Linked DNA regions of Homo sapiens. The protein of the gene in region 1 purifies or fractionates together with the protein of each later gene. This does not show direct contact. Each region holds a gene or a part of one and is shown in the gene's direction. Other genes may lie near its edges.

Region 1 (7,035 bases):
AAAGGAAACTATTTACTTGAGACAATTAAGTCAATTTTTGAGCAATCCAGCTATGAAGAGCTGAAGGAAATTTCAGTGGTGGTTCACCTAGCAGACTTTAATTCTTCCTGGCGTGATGCCATGGTCCAGGATATTACACAGAAATTTGCGCACCATATTATTGCAGGAAGATTAATGGTTATACATGCTCCAGAGGAGTATTACCCAATCCTAGATGGCCTTAAAAGAAATTACAATGATCCAGAAGATAGAGTCAAATTTCGTTCCAAGCAAAATGTAGATTATGCTTTTCTGCTTAATTTTTGTGCCAATACTTCAGACTATTATGTAATGCTTGAAGATGATGTTCGATGTTCAAAAAATTTCTTAACTGCCATCAAGAAAGTCATTGCATCCCTAGAAGGAACTTACTGGGTAACTCTTGAATTCTCTAAGCTTGGCTACATTGGTAAACTCTATCATTCTCATGATCTCCCACGTTTGGCCCATTTTTTATTAATGTTTTATCAAGAAATGCCTTGTGATTGGCTATTGACTCATTTCCGTGGTCTGTTGGCTCAGAAAAATGTGATCCGTTTTAAACCATCTCTCTTTCAGCACATGGGCTATTATTCATCATACAAAGGGACGGAGAATAAGCTGAAGGATGATGATTTTGAAGAGGAGTCATTTGACATTCCTGATAACCCCCCTGCAAGTCTGTACACCAACATGAATGTGTTTGAAAATTATGAAGCAAGCAAGGCTTACAGTAGTGTTGATGAGTACTTTTGGGGGAAACCACCTTCAACAGGAGATGTTTTTGTGATTGTATTTGAAAATCCAATTATAATAAAAAAAATTAAAGTAAATACTGGAACAGAAGATCGGCAAAATGATATTTTGCATCATGGAGCCCTAGATGTTGGGGAAAACGTTATGCCTAGCAAACAAAGGAGACAATGTTCTACTTACTTAAGACTAGGAGAATTCAAAAATGGAAACTTTGAAATGTCAGGTGTAAATCAAAAAATTCCATTTGATATACATTGTATGAGGATATATGTCACCAAAACACAAAAGGAATGGCTAATTATTAGGAGTATTAGCATTTGGACTTCTTAGCCAATTAAATCAGTATGTTCAGTTTCTGAAGCAGTTCTTCCTGCTTCGTCTTTTGCTACCTTTGTCTTTTGGAGGGAAAGCAATGGATGGGATATGTTAAAAGAAACATTAATTACATTGGCAGTTTTCATTTATACATTGTTGACATAATTTTACTCTTAATACACACTTGTATTTATTTTAACGTCTGAAGTTGAATATCAGTCTATAGCTAATGCTACTTTCATTTATATTTTTAAATGTTCTTAGTTTTAAAATTTCAACTGATTGTCGAAAGGGTAATATGAAAGATTTTAAATGAAAAAAATTTGTTGGATGATGATTTTTGAAAAATAGTCACCAACTGTATATACTTCCTCAAGAACTGATAATTCATTATATCATCAGATAGCTTTTATTAAGCATCTGTGGGAATATACAGTTGGGTGGAATGATAATCTGGTTTATTTTTTCTGTAAACTTAAGTTTCCGTTGACTTCTGTACATCTACAATGAATACCTCCTCATAGAAGTGGTGTCTTTACATAATTTTTTGTGTAGGTGACACTATGGAAAAAGAAAAAAAAGACTTAAAAATATCTCTCCCCTGATTATTTATATGAAAGGGGATATTGTTCATTGTTTAAAAACATTTAATTGAGCACCTATTGTTGATAAATTTTCTGGGGGAAGCAGTCTTTTTCAAGTTTCCCTTTTGAAAAAAAAAAAGAAGAGTTAAGCTCAATATTTTCAGGTTACATTGAGTACCCACATTTAATAGAATAAATTAGGGAAGGCCTATAGTAGTTAGCTCATTCGTACAGACATTTTCAGTATATGCAGAAAATTTTTGGAAATTGATTTTATACATTTTGTATTAAAATCCATGTGATTGAAATTATTGTGATTTATCATATACCTTTTTGGAATTTAAATGGGTATATTATAAAGGAGAAAAGTAAGAACCATAGAAATTAGTTGACTTTTCTAGAATCAAAGATCTATTTCCTAGCAAGGCCAGAATGAGAGATCTGATATTCTGATAACCAGACAATGCTCTTTTTCTCGTATGATTTCTCCTGACAGATTTATGCTTTGTGTTCTATTTGCTACATGCCTGTCAGATAATAAGTTATACCATCTGGAAATAGGTGGTACAATTCCTGCATAAATAATATTATCCTAAATAATGTCCTAAATGATGCTTTTTTGGTATAAGCACCCAAATAGTAAGCAAACTTGACTAAACTTTTCCTAATAGGGATTGGAGAGTGTGTCTTTACAATGTGTCCGTTAAAGTAATTCAGGACACCTTAGTGTGTCCTAAAGACATTGGTTTTCAGAATGTCCTGAGCTTGTCTCTTCCTTTTTGTTTTTTAATGAACAGCAAAAACTAAGGGATTTATTATAAAGGGAAATGGAAGGTGCTTCATATATGTTTAAGAAACTCAAGTACGTGTTCATATAGATGACTCTGTGTGTGTGTGTGTGTGTGTGTGTGTGTGTGTGTGTGTGTGTGTGTGTGTGTGAAGGCTAGACTTTTGCTGGTAAGACAGAATGAGGAAATCTTCCTGCTCTTCCTTTTCATACTGAAACACAATCCTTAAGATTTACTGGTATGCTGTGGTGCAAACAACACTAGGATATTTTTATTTTATTCGTTCTCTGCAAATAAATGAGAAACTCAGATAAAAAATGGAAACTTTTTATTTCATTTATAAACAGCTGTTGTGTATTTTCTTTGTATTCAGCTACTAAAGTGTTAGAAGAAAAACGAACCTTTCATAAGAGGCTAAATATTAATATTTTGTGAGGCACCTAAATCTTACAGTCATAGGAAAATATGAACACTGCCACTAAATTATTATCTTTACCTTGATTTAGAGGATACTTGCCAGACACCTAAAAATGTTCTATTTTCTTTATTTTTCTTATCTTTTATTAACCGGCTAGTTGATAGTATTGTGTGTATATCTCAGAAGTTACAAATGGCATTATTTTCTTCACTGTCAATGATAAAAGGTACACAATTGTATGCCAAAGACATGTAATATCAAGAGCTAGGCAGACTCCCTGAAATGAGTTGTAACCCCTTACATATTCTTCTGGGAATGGCTTTCTAAAGATCAGCTATTGGTGTCTATCAATGTCTTAAAAATGTTTCAAGAAACATTGCTGAGGGTAGCAGTGAAGTTGGATGTTTGCTAGGAAATTATGAAAACAAATGTGACTCAGAGAGGTCATTTCACATTTTATCTTTATATCCTCTCTTTACTAAACCTGTGTTTGGATAAGTTGGTCAATCATCCAAGGATCCTCTATGTTTTCTTTACAGTTGACACTGGGTCAATTTTCTAAGGAAAACACCTTGACAAATAAAGCATCTTCATTAGAGGTCAGGAGGAAAAATAACTATTCTCTTTCAAAAGAAAATCTGAACAATTTTTTTAGCATGGCCCAATGTTCTATTTCCTATATTTAGAAACTTTGAATAAGGGTCTAGTAATCTTGTCTCAGAGGCATAGAAACAAAAGTACAGTTATTAGGTTTAACTATACTCAAACTATTTGCTATTTTTAAACATTTTTGCTGTAAGTTTATATATATATACATATATAATACATATATACATATATATAATATATATATACATATATATATAATTTTCTTTGTTAAAAATAACAATTGAAAAAGACTGGCATGAGACATGAATGGCTGAGTCATTTAATTGCCATACAAATAAAATGCTGACAGGTTTCAAGCAAAAAATACAGTATGCACCTTAAATAATGCCTCAGAATTGTATAATTTAAGCTCACTAAAAACCTTACTTAGTCTTAAAATTCTCCTTAGGGGAGCCTTTTCAGCAGTTATGGACATCAAAGAAAAAAGTATCTTGTAAAAGCACAATGAAATTTAGAAAATACACATTTTAGTGGCAATCACAAATGTCAATATAAAAGATACATAAAATATGTTAATGCAAGAACTTTTTCATATTCATTGAAAACTATAACTTTGTGCTATTTATAAAGTAGATATTTTCCAGGTATGAAAATATAATTTGGAAACCAACCTGTCGTTTAGATCTATTTCTTTCATATAGCTACACTATGAGTTGTGAACATTCCATTTCTTACTGGGCCAGTATTCTCTGGGAATTTTTATAATGCTATCATAGAAAAACTGTTCTGTATAATAATTATATAAAAAATGAAACAAACATTTTCAAATTGTAATATATGATGTGGTATGGAAAGTACCTACATTTTTAGATGCTCAAATATTGGCATATTTCATGTCAGTATTTGCCAATTTGTCAACAAGTTTATGGCAAAGAACATGATACCAGGATTAACATTGAAAACACTACATCCAGTGCCATCTAACAATTGAAGGAAACAGTGTGTAATTCTCTTCTTTTTCCTTGACAATACATCCATCAACACAGTAATGGCATCATATTACTGAGTAATAGAGCTCACACTTAAACTTTATAATATTTATTATGGGATCTACTGATAAAATGATTTACCGTTTTGTACAAATTCAACTGATTTTGGGGGGTTTCTTGTAAGATTTAATATTAATTTTAGGATAATTTTATCCTGTTTCTTTTGATTCATGATCCCAAACTTTCTAGATCTTGCTTCTGTCATTCCACGTCTTATTATGCCTCCTCAGCTTTGTGTTTCAACAAATTTTATATGCATGCCTTTTGTCTTCATGGGAGACAAAACAGAAGGTTCATACAGACTTGATTTTGACACCCAGTTCTGCATTACCAGCCTCCCAATATGAGGAAATTTACTTAACCTTCTTGAAACTCAGTTTCTACATCTGTGAATAGGAATAATTTTACCTCATATGTTTTTAAAGGTAGCAATTTTACCTTGTAGCTCCTTGTAGAGCTGGAATTGAGATAACATAAACTAGGCACACAATAAATATTTGTTTCCTTTTTATCCATGTCACGTATATGTAACAGGATATGACCCTGGAAAACATTACCAGAGGCCTTCATTGTAATCAATAACAATTATAAAATTTACTGCCCTTTAAAAATGTTATTCAGCCTACCTTTTCATATTTTGTCCAGAGAATATCATGTGGAATTATACAGACACTTTCCTAAAATCAATATATATTCCTGTCATTCTAATTTATTACTCTAGAAACCTTATCAAAAATATCAAAATTGCCCCTAGTGCTCTCATCACAAATAATAATATTCATTTCTGTTTTAAGAAATCTTGATCCATTTACATTGAAAAACAAAGAAACATAAAGTCATTTCCTAGTTTCTAAGATGTTGTTTAGAATCTACCTTAAGCTCAGAAATGCAGTCTTCAGAATCTTTTTACTTTTTTTTTTTAATGTCAGGATCCGGTTCTCTGGCATCTTTTCTATCATTGGCAAAAGTTATCAATGCACTGACCTATAAATTACCTTGGCACTGATGTTTGAAATAGGTATCTTATCTGCTAGTCTACTTTGAGTTTCATTGTTGAGTTTTCCATTACTTTGAATTTCTTTGTTCAGATTGGGGTTATTCTTTTTAGGAAGAAAAAGGCCATAACAAAATTCAATGTGATTAGTTATTGCCATTTATTTTTTGTTTGCTTTTAAACTTTTTTTTTATTTATCCCAAACAGAGGATATATCTTTTATTACTTTTTGGCATGCTTTGAAATGATTTCATTATTGCATATGTGCATGTGTGTATCTACATATGGTTAATCTCTCAATCTGTGTGTATGTATATATACATATGTGTATGTACATATGTGTATATATGTATACATACTTGAATATTATGTGAATATGTGTGTATATTTGTGTATATATATACATATATACATGTATGTATTTGTATATGTGTTGTGTAAGTGTGTCTGTGTGTATGAGAGAAAGACAGAAGGATATGCACCATTTGCATTATTTTTTAGCCTTTACACCTCCACTTATTCTTGGATTTTCCTGACACACTGTCCTCCTGGTTGTGTTCCTCTTCTGAACTTGCTTTTGCTTTCATGTTCTCACTCAAATCTTTTATACATGACATCCTTTGAAAATCACAGCACATTAGAGATCTTTGTGCATCCTTTTAGATACTTTAAATTTATTAAAAGTGTACTAGAGGAGGCCATCTCTCTCAAAACAGAATTTTTCTTTTAGAGTTTCAGGTTTATGGTTTTTATTTGAATTCTTTAACATTAAAAGATCAAAATATGAGTTGCATAGCATTCTCTTTCTAAGCTATAAAAATATTAAGATAACAAGGTTGCACTTTCCCAAAGTTCTAGTCCCTTCCACCTCATTAATCTGTTCATCACATTTACTCCAAGTCCAGGGTAGAATTTGCTTCAATAATCCCAATATTTTCTGAGATGTTTAATATCCTATTTTTAACATTGAAATTGAAATGTATGTTTGAGACCATTTGCCAGATAACTGGATCTGAATATCTTTTCTGAAAAACATGGATTTGAGACCAAAGCAGTTTTTGATTTGACTGTTGTTTCAGCTTTCATTTCACTCTGTCTAGACGGTCTCTTAGAAGATTTACCAAAAAGTTAAATTGATTATGTGAGAAAGTGATAGGTAAATTGTATATGACCATAGAAGTACAATTAAATTAAGAATATAGCATGATCAAATTTTCACATTATATTGGATTAAAAAGTACCCTAAGTAGCCATCTCCTTAAAGTAGGTGAGCCAAAGACATAATAATAAAATATTCAATATTTTTCTATAAAATACAAATTTCCATGAGGCACACATACATTAAATTTAATATAAAGAGAATCATTACTTTATTTAAGAGTTGTTTAAAGGTGCACAACAACAGTGAGTTACCAATATTCAGAACCTTAGTCTATAATTTCAATGTACTGTAAGTTACTACAGCTTTAACCACAATAGCTGGCATAACCTAAATCATTCTGCC
Region 2 (4,167 bases), on another chromosome or scaffold:
GTCCATCTTGCACACAGCTGCCAGAGTGAAAATAAAAATCAGATTCAGTCACAACTTAAACTCTTCAGCGTCCCCCATGCTTTCAGGGACATGAGGACCCAGCTCCTGTTGTCTGCCAGGGAGTCACCCAGTTTGATGCCAGCTCAGTGCCAGCTCAGATGCCAGCTCCTCTGGACCCAGGCGCAACCCCTGCAACAGGGCAGGTTCTGGGCCTCTCCCCCACTTCAGGAGCCACACCTCCCTTTCTCCCACCCACCCTGTGCAAACCCTCACATTCCCTTTGACCCTGGTGTGAGCGGCCAAGCTCTTACCTCAGCTGGGTGGAGAATCGCTCCCTCTGCTCTGGTGTCTGTCCCTGGGCTCTATTTCACAGTCGAGTTGCGTGTGTGTGTTGGCTACAGGCAGCCCTGTGTCCTTCTTTGGGTGTGGGGAGGGCGTGCATGACAGTCACACCCAGAGGCTTTCCTCTCTGATCTGCAAACAGATGCCGTTGGCAACCACAGGTCATTCAGCGACAAGAATGGCCTCACCAGCAAGCGGGAGCTGCGGCCCGAAGATGACATGAAACCAGGTGAGAGGACTCCTATCCCGGGCCCCGGGGCACCTCACTTCCACCAGCTCCCAGGTGCATGCAGGGGACAGCTGTGGGTGTCGGGGCTGTCCACAGCTGCAGCCCAAGCCTGGCCATGACTTGACTAAGACGATGTGGCCTCGCCACACCTGTCAGCAGCTGCAAACAGAACGTGCAAACCCGAGACAGCAAGGGGTCCTTCTAGGCTGGGAGGCTGCCCAGGCACCAGGGCCTCCAGAAGAGCGGGACTGGGCACGATGGCTCCTGCCTGTAATCCCAGCACTCTGGGAGGCTGATGCGGGTGGATCACCTGAGGTCTGGAGTTCAAGACCAGCCTGGCCAACATGGCAAAACCCTGTCTCTACCAAAAATATAAAAATTAGCCAGGCGTGGTGGTGGGTGCCTGTCATCCCAGCTACTTGGGAGGCAGAGGCTCGAGAATCACTTGAACCTGGGAGGCGGAGGTTGCAGTGAGCCAAGATCATGACACTGCATTCCAGCCTAGGCAACAGAGTGAGACTCCATCTCAATTAAAAAGAAGAAGAAGAAGAAAAGCGAGGCCTCGAACTGGATATCTCCCCAACTCCCTCACATTGAACAAGGGCCTTGGAAAGCACAGCAGGGCCTCAGGCTGCTGGGATCAGATCATTGACCTTGCAGCGCCCAGCTCCTCTGTAGGGAGGGGGATGACCTGAGACACTGAAGCACCCTCTGCACAAGTCGTGAATGTTGATCTTTTCTCTTCTAGGAAGCTTTGACAGGTCCATACCTGAAAACAATATCATGCGCACAATCATTGAGTTTCTGTCTTTCTTGCATCTCAAAGGTATGTGAAATATCATCAACTTAACATTCATCTCTTAGTACACTGGAAACGTAAAAGGCCCATCGAGAAGAGAACCCATAGAATCCCCCTGGGAAGTAGCCGATTACTTATCTACGTACAAAGTCCTGTTTGGCTGTGTGTCGGGATAACAGAGAATGTAACACTAGAGCTAGCTCCAGAGGGCTGGGATTGCGGCAGGGGCATTCTACCGTCGTGGAGGGCCATCGGGCCAGCGCTGGTCCCAGGAAGAGAGTGGGCCTCAGGGTGCAGCTCATTCTACTGGAACCATATCTATTCACACGGTGACAACTGCTGTACCTTTTAGGGCAGAGGTATACTACAGGCCAAGTTCTTTGTGAACCGTCCTAAACCTTTTCTCTTTTCTTTTTTCTCTGTCTTTTCTTTCTCTTCTCTCTTTTCTTTCTTTCTTCTTTCTCTTCCTTCCTTCCTTTTTCTTCCTCCCTCTTTCTCTCTCTCTTTCTTCCTTCCTTCCTTCATCTCACTCTGTCGCCCAGGCTCGAATGTAGTGGTGCAATCTCAGCTCACTGCAGCCTCTGCCTCCTGGGCTCAAGTGATTCTCGTGCCTCTTCTTCCCAGGTAGCTGGGAAAACAGGTGCGCACAATTATGCCTGGCTAATTTTTGTATTTTTAGTAGAGGCTGGGGTTCATCATGTTGGCCAGGCTCATCTTGAACTCCTGGCCTCAAGTGACCTGTCTGCCTCAGTCTCCCAAAGTGCTGGGATTACAGGCGTGAGCCACTGTGCCTGGCCCTAAACCATATTTTCTAAGCATGGGAAATTAATAGAAGCCCATATCTTAGACTGCAGTGTTTCTCTATGCAGCCTTCCTGCCAGGCAGGCTGCCTTGAAATCTAACTGGAAAGGCTCTGATCCTGGCTTCCAGTGTCTTCTGCAAACACTGGGGATGAGGAGACCTCCGCACACTACGCTTGGCATTCATTCTACGATGGGCATCTGGCCTTGATCAGATAACCACACAGGTCCTACTGCAGCAGTGGAGGGAGCCGGAAAGCGGCCCCGGTGCTCTGAGGGTTAACAGGGAGGTGGTGGTGGGGAGGAGGGATGGACCGCTTTGCCTCTCCAGCAGAGAAGACCTTCACCTGGTGCTCTGAGAGTTAAGGGGGAGGCAGTGGTGGGGAGGAGGGATAGACCGCTTTGCCTCTCCAGCAGAGAAGACCTTCACCTGGTGCTCTGAGAGTTAAGGGGGAGGTGGTGGAGGGGAGGAGGGATGGACCACTTAGCCTCTCCAGTGGAGAAGACCTTCACCTGCTGCTCTGAGAGTTAACAGGGAGCTGGTGGTGGGGAGGAGGGATGGACCGTTAGCCTCTCCAGTGGAGACCTTCAGTTGCACATCACAGTTTTGTCCAGTTTTGAAAAATCAAGGCTAATCCTTGGGTTCATTTTGGATCAGGATGTTTTTCATTTGCAGTGTTATCGGGCTGCACTTTAGGTGGCGATGGGGAGAGGGAAGAGGAGTGAGGGGAGGGGAGCGGGGGAAGGAGACTGCCAGAGAAGGTCTTGGAAAAGGCGGTGTTCATTAGAAATCTCAAAACCGAGTCACCAAGTTCCCTCTGTTGGAGCCCAGTGGAGCCTCTGGGAGAAAAGCTGGGGTGACTTTTCCTACAAGGGGCAGAGGGACTCTGCTAGATTTTTGTTTTTCATTTGTTTTTAATTTTGTAACATGGAAACTCTTTCCTTAGGATATACCAGCTCTCATTACTCAGCTAGGAATTATACCTCTTTAAAGCCTGAATTTAAAAGTCTGACAGTTTTAAATGCTTACTAACTGTGGGAGTTAAATCATTACGAAGTGAGGAATACAGAGTGTTGTCCCTGATTCTGGGTTTAATCTGGTAAGAATCTTTACAGAGGACGACCACACGCCGCTTCCTGTAGCATGTGTCGTGGTTGTAATTCTCTCATGTGCATATTAAGAAGTTGCTGCTCAGATGTGGCTCTTCCCTTTGCAGAGGCCGGTGCCCTCGACCGCCTCCTGGATCTCCCCGCCGCAGCCTCCTCAGAAGACATCGAGCGGTCCTGAGAGCCTCCTGGGCATGTTTGTCTGTGTGCTGTAACCTGAAGTCAAACCTTAAGATAATGGATAATCTTCGGCCAATTTATGCAGAGTCAGCCATTCCTGTTCTCTTTGCCTTGATGTTGTGTTGTTATCATTTAAGATTTTTTTTTTTTGGTAATTATTTTGAGTGGCAAAATAAAGAATAGCAATTACTTGCAATTGTCTTTTTCTTCCACACCTCTGTCTCATCACCAGCGCCACCCATGGGTTTTAAAAGATAAAGCTTGATCATAATCGTGGATTAGACATGAATTTTAAACCCAAATTCTACCGTCAAGAGCATCTGAGACACCACCTGTTATTGCATGTCCAGGGGACATAAATTTATCTCCATATTAAGCTGAGTCAAATGTAATTATGAAGGTAAGTCTGTTACTGAGATGAACAAAAACACAAAACAGACAAAACCCCTGCCCTCGTGGAGCTGATATTTTAGGGAGATGGGAATGAAAAAGACTACAACAACCTTAAACAGATGGGTGAGTTGCGTGGTACTCATGGAGGTGGTCAGTGCTGAGAACAGACGTGTTGGCCAGGTGGGAGGGCCAGGAGCAAGGCAGGAGAGGAGAGATGGGCGGGCAGGTAGAAAGGCAAGGGCAGGAGGTGTGTGCAGGGATGGTGCTGTGTGAAGGAAGGCCTGTGGGAATATCTCTTAACGTGACAGAGACTGAGT
Region 3 (7,035 bases), on another chromosome or scaffold:
CCACAGAACATCCAGGGTGAGTGGGCGCCCCGGCGGGGTGGGCAGTGGGCGGGCCCGAGCTGACCGCACCCCTCCCCACAGCGCACCTCTACAAGTGCCCGGCCCTGCGCGAGAGCTGCGGCCTCTGCCTCAAGGCCGACCCGCGCTTCGAGTGCGGATGGTGCGTGGCCGAGCGCCGCTGCTCCCTGCGACACCACTGCGCTGCCGACACACCTGCATCGTGGATGCACGCGCGTCACGGCAGCAGTCGCTGCACCGACCCCAAGATCCTCAAGGTAGGGCCCCCAGCCCTGCCCCCACACCCCATGCCCCGCCCTGCACCACCGCACACCCTACGCCCTGTGGGATGCCTGTACCCCAGCCTCTGCCTCCCTCAGCTGTCCCCCGAGACGGGCCCGAGGCAGGGCGGCACGCGGCTCACTATCACAGGCGAGAACCTGGGCCTGCGATTCGAAGACGTGCGTCTGGGCGTGCGCGTGGGCAAGGTGCTGTGCAGCCCTGTGGAGAGCGAGTACATCAGTGCGGAGCAGTGAGTGCAGCCCTGGGTGTGTGCGGGGCGGGACGGGACGGGGCGGGGCTCCTGCAGCCCCTGAGGCCCGCCTGCCCACAGGATCGTCTGTGAGATCGGGGACGCCAGCTCCGTGCGTGCCCATGACGCCCTGGTGGAGGTGTGTGTGCGGGACTGCTCACCACACTACCGCGCCCTGTCACCCAAGCGCTTCACCTTCGTGGTGAGTCTGCTGCCCTCCCTCTCTCCCTATTCTCTGCTGCTCTGAGAGGGTGCCGCTCAGGGCTTCTGTGCCTCTTCAGGGCCCCTTGTCTGGCCATGCTCTGCCACTGCTTTTCCACGGCCTGGGTGCTGCCCCTCCCCTCCTGTGCCTAGGCCAGCTCCAGGGCTCCCTGGCTCACCTTGGGCTGTGCCTGAGAAACCTGGAAGTACTGGCTCTGAAGTGCAGCTCCCGGGCATGCGGGCTCCTAGTCTGGGGAACTGTCTGTGGGGGTAAGCAGGCCAAGTGGGGCCTGTCCCCATGTGGCCCGAGGGGGACTTTCCTGAGAGTTTCAGCAAGTTCCCTCTTCCTGCAGACACCAACCTTCTACCGTGTGAGCCCCTCCCGTGGGCCTCTGTCAGGGGGCACCTGGATTGGCATCGAGGGAAGCCACCTGAACGCAGGCAGTGATGTGGCTGTGTCGGTCGGTGGCCGGCCCTGCTCCTTCTCCTGGTACGGGGTGCAGGTGGGGGTGGGGGCCTGGCTGCCCCTCCTCCTGTTTCAGATGGTTGCATGCCCCTTCTTGTTGCCTGGGCAACGGGGCTATGGAGAGCCTGGCTGGGGTGATCACTGTGAAACCCAGAGGCGGAGGTTACCATGGAAACAGGCTACCTCCAGAGTGGTAGGACTGGGCGGTGATGGGCGTGGGGCCTGCCTTTGTGGGGCGGGGCAACTTGGCTGCCTCTGCCCTGGTTCTTCCCTGTGGGGAAGGGGGGAATCCCTTGGGTACAAAATAAGAAGTATTTTTTAAAAATTTTTAAGAGAGAAAACAGAAATCTTAACAAAAGCCCTGAGGCTTGAAGTGGATAATTTTAGATTAGGGATGATAATGGAATGTCCCTTTAAATATTTTCCTATGGTAATTACCCGTTATCAGACTAATCATTGGTGTCTGCAGCTGAGGGGGCCTGGTGGCTGTGGGGCTCCTGGCAGTGGTGGAAGAACTGAGGGTCCGGACCCAGGTGTGGGCTATGCCTGGCTGCCTGCCCAGTGGGGTGTCCCCGTGACCCCCACCCAGGCCAGCTCATCTAGTCTCCTCACAGCCCCCTGGGATGCGGGGATAGGGCGAGGTATTCCCACTGGGACAGGTGCCGAGAGGGAAGGTGTCTGCCTGGCCCAGGGTAGTAGGAGTGGGTGCTGGGCTCCCAGCACTCGGAGCCCCGGCTGAGTGAGGCTGGCCCTGAGACAGGCAGGGAAGGTCGCGCCAGGGCTTAGTCTCGCCAGCCCTCCCCAGGGACAGAGGGAGGGCAGCATGAGCCTACCTCCCAGCCTGGCGTGCGTGGGACGGGCCTGCTGCCTACTGCCTCTGGGGAGGCAGAGGCCTGGTGGGTGTGGAGCCCTGGCCAGGGTCACCAGGAGTGGGTGTGGGCGACAGGGAGGCTGTGATGAAAGCAGACCTGGAGAGGCGGCAGGCCGGGTCCCAAATGCCAGGCTGGGCAACAGTGGGGGCCTGAAGGGGCTGGGAGCCAGGGCGAGGGTAGGACAGACATGCACAGCCCTGGGAGGGAAAGTAGCGGTGATAGTATGCAGCCACCCAAGGCAGTACCTGTGACAGATGGCGCTGTTCCCACCGTCCCTCAATGCATCTGCATTCCACCTGCCTGGGTTCCACCCGTGTGCTCCTCACTGTCCCACTCGGGCACCTCCAGGAGGAACTCCCGTGAGATCCGGTGCCTGACACCCCCCGGGCAGAGCCCTGGCAGCGCTCCCATCATCATCAACATCAACCGCGCCCAGCTCACCAACCCTGAGGTGAAGTACAACTACACCGAGGACCCCACCATCCTGAGGATCGACCCCGAGTGGAGCATCAACAGGTGGGGCCCAGCAACACCCATTCCCTATCCCCAGCTATTGAGAGCAGCGCTGAGCCAGGAGCTCTTCCACTGGGCACTTGGCGGTGGCCCTCCTGCATGCCGGGTACTATCCTGCCGGGAAGCACCCCTTGCCAAGAGCTTTTACCTGTTTCCTGTCTTTGGGGAAGGCAGGCTTTGCCTGGCTGAGCTGTGGCCCACGTTTCCAGCTCACTGGGCCCCAGCATCATTTGGTGACCCCCCCACCCCTGTCCTGTTCCAGCGGTGGGACCCTCCTGACGGTCACAGGCACCAACCTGGCCACTGTCCGTGAACCCCGAATCCGGGCCAAGTATGGAGGCATTGAGAGGGAGAACGTGAGTCCCTGCCCTCAGCTGCCCACCTCGGTCCAGGCCTTCACCTGGGATGGGGCTCCTGCTAGGAATACCCGTGTCCCTGCCCCTGCCCCTACCCCTGCCCCTTCCCAGCTTATGCCAACCTTGGCTGTGCCTGGAGACCCCTGGGGAGGCACCTGTCCTGCCTGGCGGGTAGAAGGTCTGGCTCTGGGTTGCTGGCTGCACACACCTCTCCTTCAGGCCACATGTCCCTGGTCCACGTCGGGTGGGTGGCCCAGGACCAGCCCTGCTAGTGCCTGGCATCATCTGTGCAGGGAGCAGGCAGCCCCCAGGCCAGGGGCTCTGTCACTGGGAGCTGCCGGGCCACTCGCGGAGGTCCCGCCCAGCATCCCCACCCTGTGTCTCCAGGGCTGCCTGGTGTACAATGACACCACCATGGTATGCCGCGCCCCGTCTGTGGCCAACCCTGTGCGCAGCCCACCAGAGCTGGGGGAGCGGCCGGATGAGCTGGGCTTCGTCATGGACAACGTGCGCTCCCTGCTTGTGCTCAACTCCACCTCCTTCCTCTACTACCCTGACCCCGTACTGGAGCCACTCAGCCCCACTGGCCTGCTGGAGCTGAAGCCCAGCTCCCCACTCATCCTCAAGGTGGGTCACCATTGCCCGTAGGCTGGGCCAAGCCAGGGAAGAGGCCCCTCGTCCTGGGCTCTGGCTCACCCCCATCTCCTACAGGGCCGGAACCTCTTGCCACCTGCACCCGGCAACTCCCGACTCAACTACACGGTGCTCATCGGCTCCACACCCTGTACCCTCACCGTGTCGGAGACGCAACTGCTGTGCGAGGCGCCCAACCTCACTGGGCAGCACAAGGTCACGGTGCGTCTGTCCACCGGGGGTGCAGAGCTGGGAGAGCCATGCCCCACCTGTGGACCCTGCCCCACTAGCACAGCCCCAGCTCTGACCTTGCCCGAGACTCACCCCTAGCTCAGAGGGCGCCCGGCTCCAGTGCAGGCCCTGCCGTAGCCTTCAGCCTGCCACCTCCTTGAGCCCCCCGAGACTGCCTACCCACCCTGAGCCCTTGCCATGCCAGTGGTGCCCTGGCTGGCCAGGCGCCTGCCCTGGGTCCCAGTGTCTCCACCCTGGTGACCACTCTGTGCCCCTGTCGGTGGGACCTTTCCCACAGGCAGGTGTTGGGGGTGGGTCTTGCCCATCGGGAGGGGCTCCCAAGCTTTGTGGAAAGCATGGGAAGCTCCTGAGTGGCCTCCACCCACTGGCAGGTGCGGGCAGGTGGCTTCGAGTTCTCGCCAGGGACACTGCAGGTGTACTCGGACAGCCTGCTGACGCTGCCTGCCATTGTGGGCATTGGCGGAGGCGGGGGTCTCCTGCTGCTGGTCATCGTGGCTGTGCTCATCGCCTACAAGCGCAAGTCACGAGATGCTGACCGCACACTCAAGCGGCTGCAGCTCCAGATGGACAACCTGGAGTCCCGCGTGGCCCTCGAATGCAAGGAAGGTCTGTTGGGGCCAGGGCTCACTGGGGCAACTGCCACCTCCGAGCCAGGCCCTGGCCTGTCCCCACACCTACTTCCCACCGCCGCCCCCACCCTGCTTCAGCTCAGTTTACAATGTTCCTGATAGCCTTGCTGTGCCAGAGCTGGTCCCAGGGCAGTGGGCGGGTGCCTGACCAGGGCCTGGCCCTGCAGCAGGTACCACCTCCTTGGGGTGCTGCTTGCGACACAGAACCCAAAGCCAGACTGTTTGCATTTGTATCCCAGCTGGGCTATAAGGCTGAAGGTGGCTACTTACCCTTCTGTGGCTCAGTCTTGTCGTCTCTAGAGTGGGCACAATGACAGTGCCTACTTTCCCTGGGTGCTGGGAGTCGTGGTGGGTTGGCTGGTGCCAGCGGAGCAGCAGAGAGGGGTGCTTCCACCATGCAGCAATGGGGAGCCCTTGCGCTTTGGCAGTCCCTGGGCACATAGAGATCTTGGCCTGAGCTGACCTTTGTCCTTGAGATGTCTATAGGGGGAGTCATGCCACACCATGCTCCTGATCAGGGCAGGTGTGAGTGGCAGAAATCTGTTCCATGCCGGGCGAGACTTTGAGCGTTTGCAGATAGTAACTCACACATGTTCAGGGCTCTAGGGGGCAGATACTAGGAGTGTTCCTGCTGCAGTGTAGGACCTTAGCCATGTGGTCCAGCATGGGGTTGTCATGAATTCCACTGGGACTCAACTGGGATGGGGTGTTTTGTTTGCACAGGACTCAGCCAGTCTTAAAATGCAAAGTTCTGCATCCTGGGAGCCCTCTCAGTCCCAGACAAACCTAAGTGGCCCTGTGGTGGGCTGAGGGTCACCCTACCTCTTGGGCAGCCCTGGTGGGACTGGAGGCAGGTGTGTGTTGGGGCCAGGTGGGAGGCAGGTGGCCTGGACCTCCCTTGTGCTCCCGCCTGCTGAGGCTGGCTGTCTGGCGAGGCTGGCGTGTGTGGATGCAGTGGCTGGTGGCTGCTCCAGGCCAGCCAGGTGCAGATAACTAGACGCCTGGCAGCGATGCCCAGGAGACGAAGACTCCAGCTCTTAATTAAACCTGTCAGATGTCCCCCAGAGCCTGCCTGGCACTCCTTTGGCTTCTGATCAGATAGCCTGATCCTCGGGCTGCCACAGGACTGACACCTCACAGCTCTGGAATGTTCTGTCAGGGCCTGCCTGCCTTTGTTCCTGACAGAGGCAGAGCTGGCCCTGAGCAGGGTGGGCCATGTTGAGGGTGCACCAGGCCCGAGATGTGCATGCAATGGTGTGGGGGCTTGGGGACAGCCTGCAGCCCTGGGACCTCACCCCTGGCCGCACTCCACCACCTCACAGCGGGTGGAAGGAGCCCGAACTCCAAAGCTGCTCTACGCTTAACTGCCAGTGTCTGAGATGCAGGAGGCCCTGCCCAGCCTGCCCCTGGTGCTGATGCTTTCTCTGCCCTTGTCTTGCTTGATCCTGTGGGAACCTTGCAGAGGAGAGTTACTATCCCTGTGCTAGGGCTGTAGTAGCTGGGGGACGAAGAGGCACAGTAGTTTCCTTAAGATCACGAAACCAGTAAGTGTCAGAGCCAGGATTTGATGTAGGCCCCAAGAGTGGGAGGGTTGGGGCATGGAGCGGGGCCACCAGGGCATGCTGCCCCTGACGCCGCATCTGGCCACAGCCTTTGCAGAGCTGCAGACAGACATCCACGAGCTGACCAATGACCTGGACGGTGCCGGCATCCCCTTCCTTGACTACCGGACATATGCCATGCGGGTGCTCTTTCCTGGGATCGAGGACCACCCTGTGCTCAAGGAGATGGAGGTAGGACCACTGGCTCCGGGGGGTCACAGGAACTCAGAGGCAGCTGCTATCTTCTGCCTTTGAGGCTCCTTGGGTGCTGATGGATGGTATGGGGCAGCCTGTGTGGCCTGGGGGAGGGTCCAGGCCTGCAGGGCTCTGGGCTCAGCCAAGTGGGGAGCAGGTGCTGGGAGGCAGAACCAAGACCAGGCAAGCACAGTGGAGCCCTGAGCCCTGGGGTTGGGGCAGGGGAATGGCCAGCACGGCTCTGCTCCATAAAGTACCTCCAGAGGGCAGGAGGAGGCTCTGGCCCCAGGGCCTCCGTGGGATGCCAGGCCTCATCCCAGCAAACCACTTGTCAGCCTGGGCTTCTGGCACCTCCCCGGTGGCTGCCCCTTGGGCCCTGCCTCTGTTGGGGGTCCCGCCTGCGGCTCCACTGGCCTGGTCTCCTGGGTGGCTCTGGATGCGAAGCCTCGCTGGGCAGGGGCCGTGTGCTGGGAGGTGCGGGTGCCTGATGAAGTCTGCTATGGCGGTTTGGGAGGGGAGCATGTGGCTGGCATAGCACCAGGGTCTCAGAGAGTAGGGCTTTGCCCCGTAGACCTTGGCAGCGAGCCTGGCGAGGGAAAAGAGGGCTGGCTCCCACACCCCTAAAAGGCCCCCAGCGGCAGGCAGGCTAGGAGCCAGTCCTTGGCGAGCCACGGCCAGGGGCTCGGCAGGTTAGCTCAGTCACACTCTCCAGCTGAGGGCACCCCCCAACCGTGTGCCTTGGATGTTGGGGAGCCCATGTCCCTTGTGGTGACTCTGTTGGTGGGAAG

What was found.
Region 2: the proteins of MGAT4C (region 1) and GAL purify together in Homo sapiens (affinity purification with mass spectrometry; 2 studies listed by BioGRID and IntAct, with this or other methods). This does not show direct contact.
Region 3: the proteins of MGAT4C (region 1) and PLXNA1 purify together in Homo sapiens (affinity purification with mass spectrometry; 2 studies listed by BioGRID and IntAct, with this or other methods). This does not show direct contact.

The regions. Positions count from the first base shown.
Region 1 is NC_000012.12:85,973,358-85,980,392, reverse strand, and holds part of MGAT4C (alpha-1,3-mannosyl-glycoprotein 4-beta-N-acetylglucosaminyltransferase C), read left to right. Parts: coding exon 1-1,104; 3' UTR 1,105-7,035.
Region 2 is NC_000011.10:68,687,530-68,691,696, forward strand, and holds the end of GAL (galanin peptides preproprotein), read left to right. Parts: intron 1-311; exon of another isoform or gene 312-474; intron 475-484; coding exon 485-571; intron 572-1,262; exon of another isoform or gene 1,263-1,319; coding exon 1,320-1,397; intron 1,398-3,387; coding exon 3,388-3,458; 3' UTR 3,459-3,646; downstream 3,647-4,167. UniProt on the Homo sapiens protein: Endocrine hormone of the central and peripheral nervous systems that binds and activates the G protein-coupled receptors GALR1, GALR2, and GALR3.
Region 3 is NC_000003.12:127,014,101-127,021,135, forward strand, and holds part of PLXNA1 (plexin-A1 precursor), read left to right. Parts: coding exon 1-16; intron 17-81; coding exon 82-275; intron 276-377; coding exon 378-529; intron 530-610; coding exon 611-731; intron 732-1,083; coding exon 1,084-1,220; intron 1,221-2,416; coding exon 2,417-2,584; intron 2,585-2,843; coding exon 2,844-2,937; intron 2,938-3,324; coding exon 3,325-3,564; intron 3,565-3,648; coding exon 3,649-3,792; intron 3,793-4,193; coding exon 4,194-4,428; intron 4,429-6,101; coding exon 6,102-6,244; intron 6,245-7,035. UniProt on the Homo sapiens protein: Coreceptor for SEMA3A, SEMA3C, SEMA3F and SEMA6D. Necessary for signaling by class 3 semaphorins and subsequent remodeling of the cytoskeleton. Plays a role in axon guidance, invasive growth and cell migration.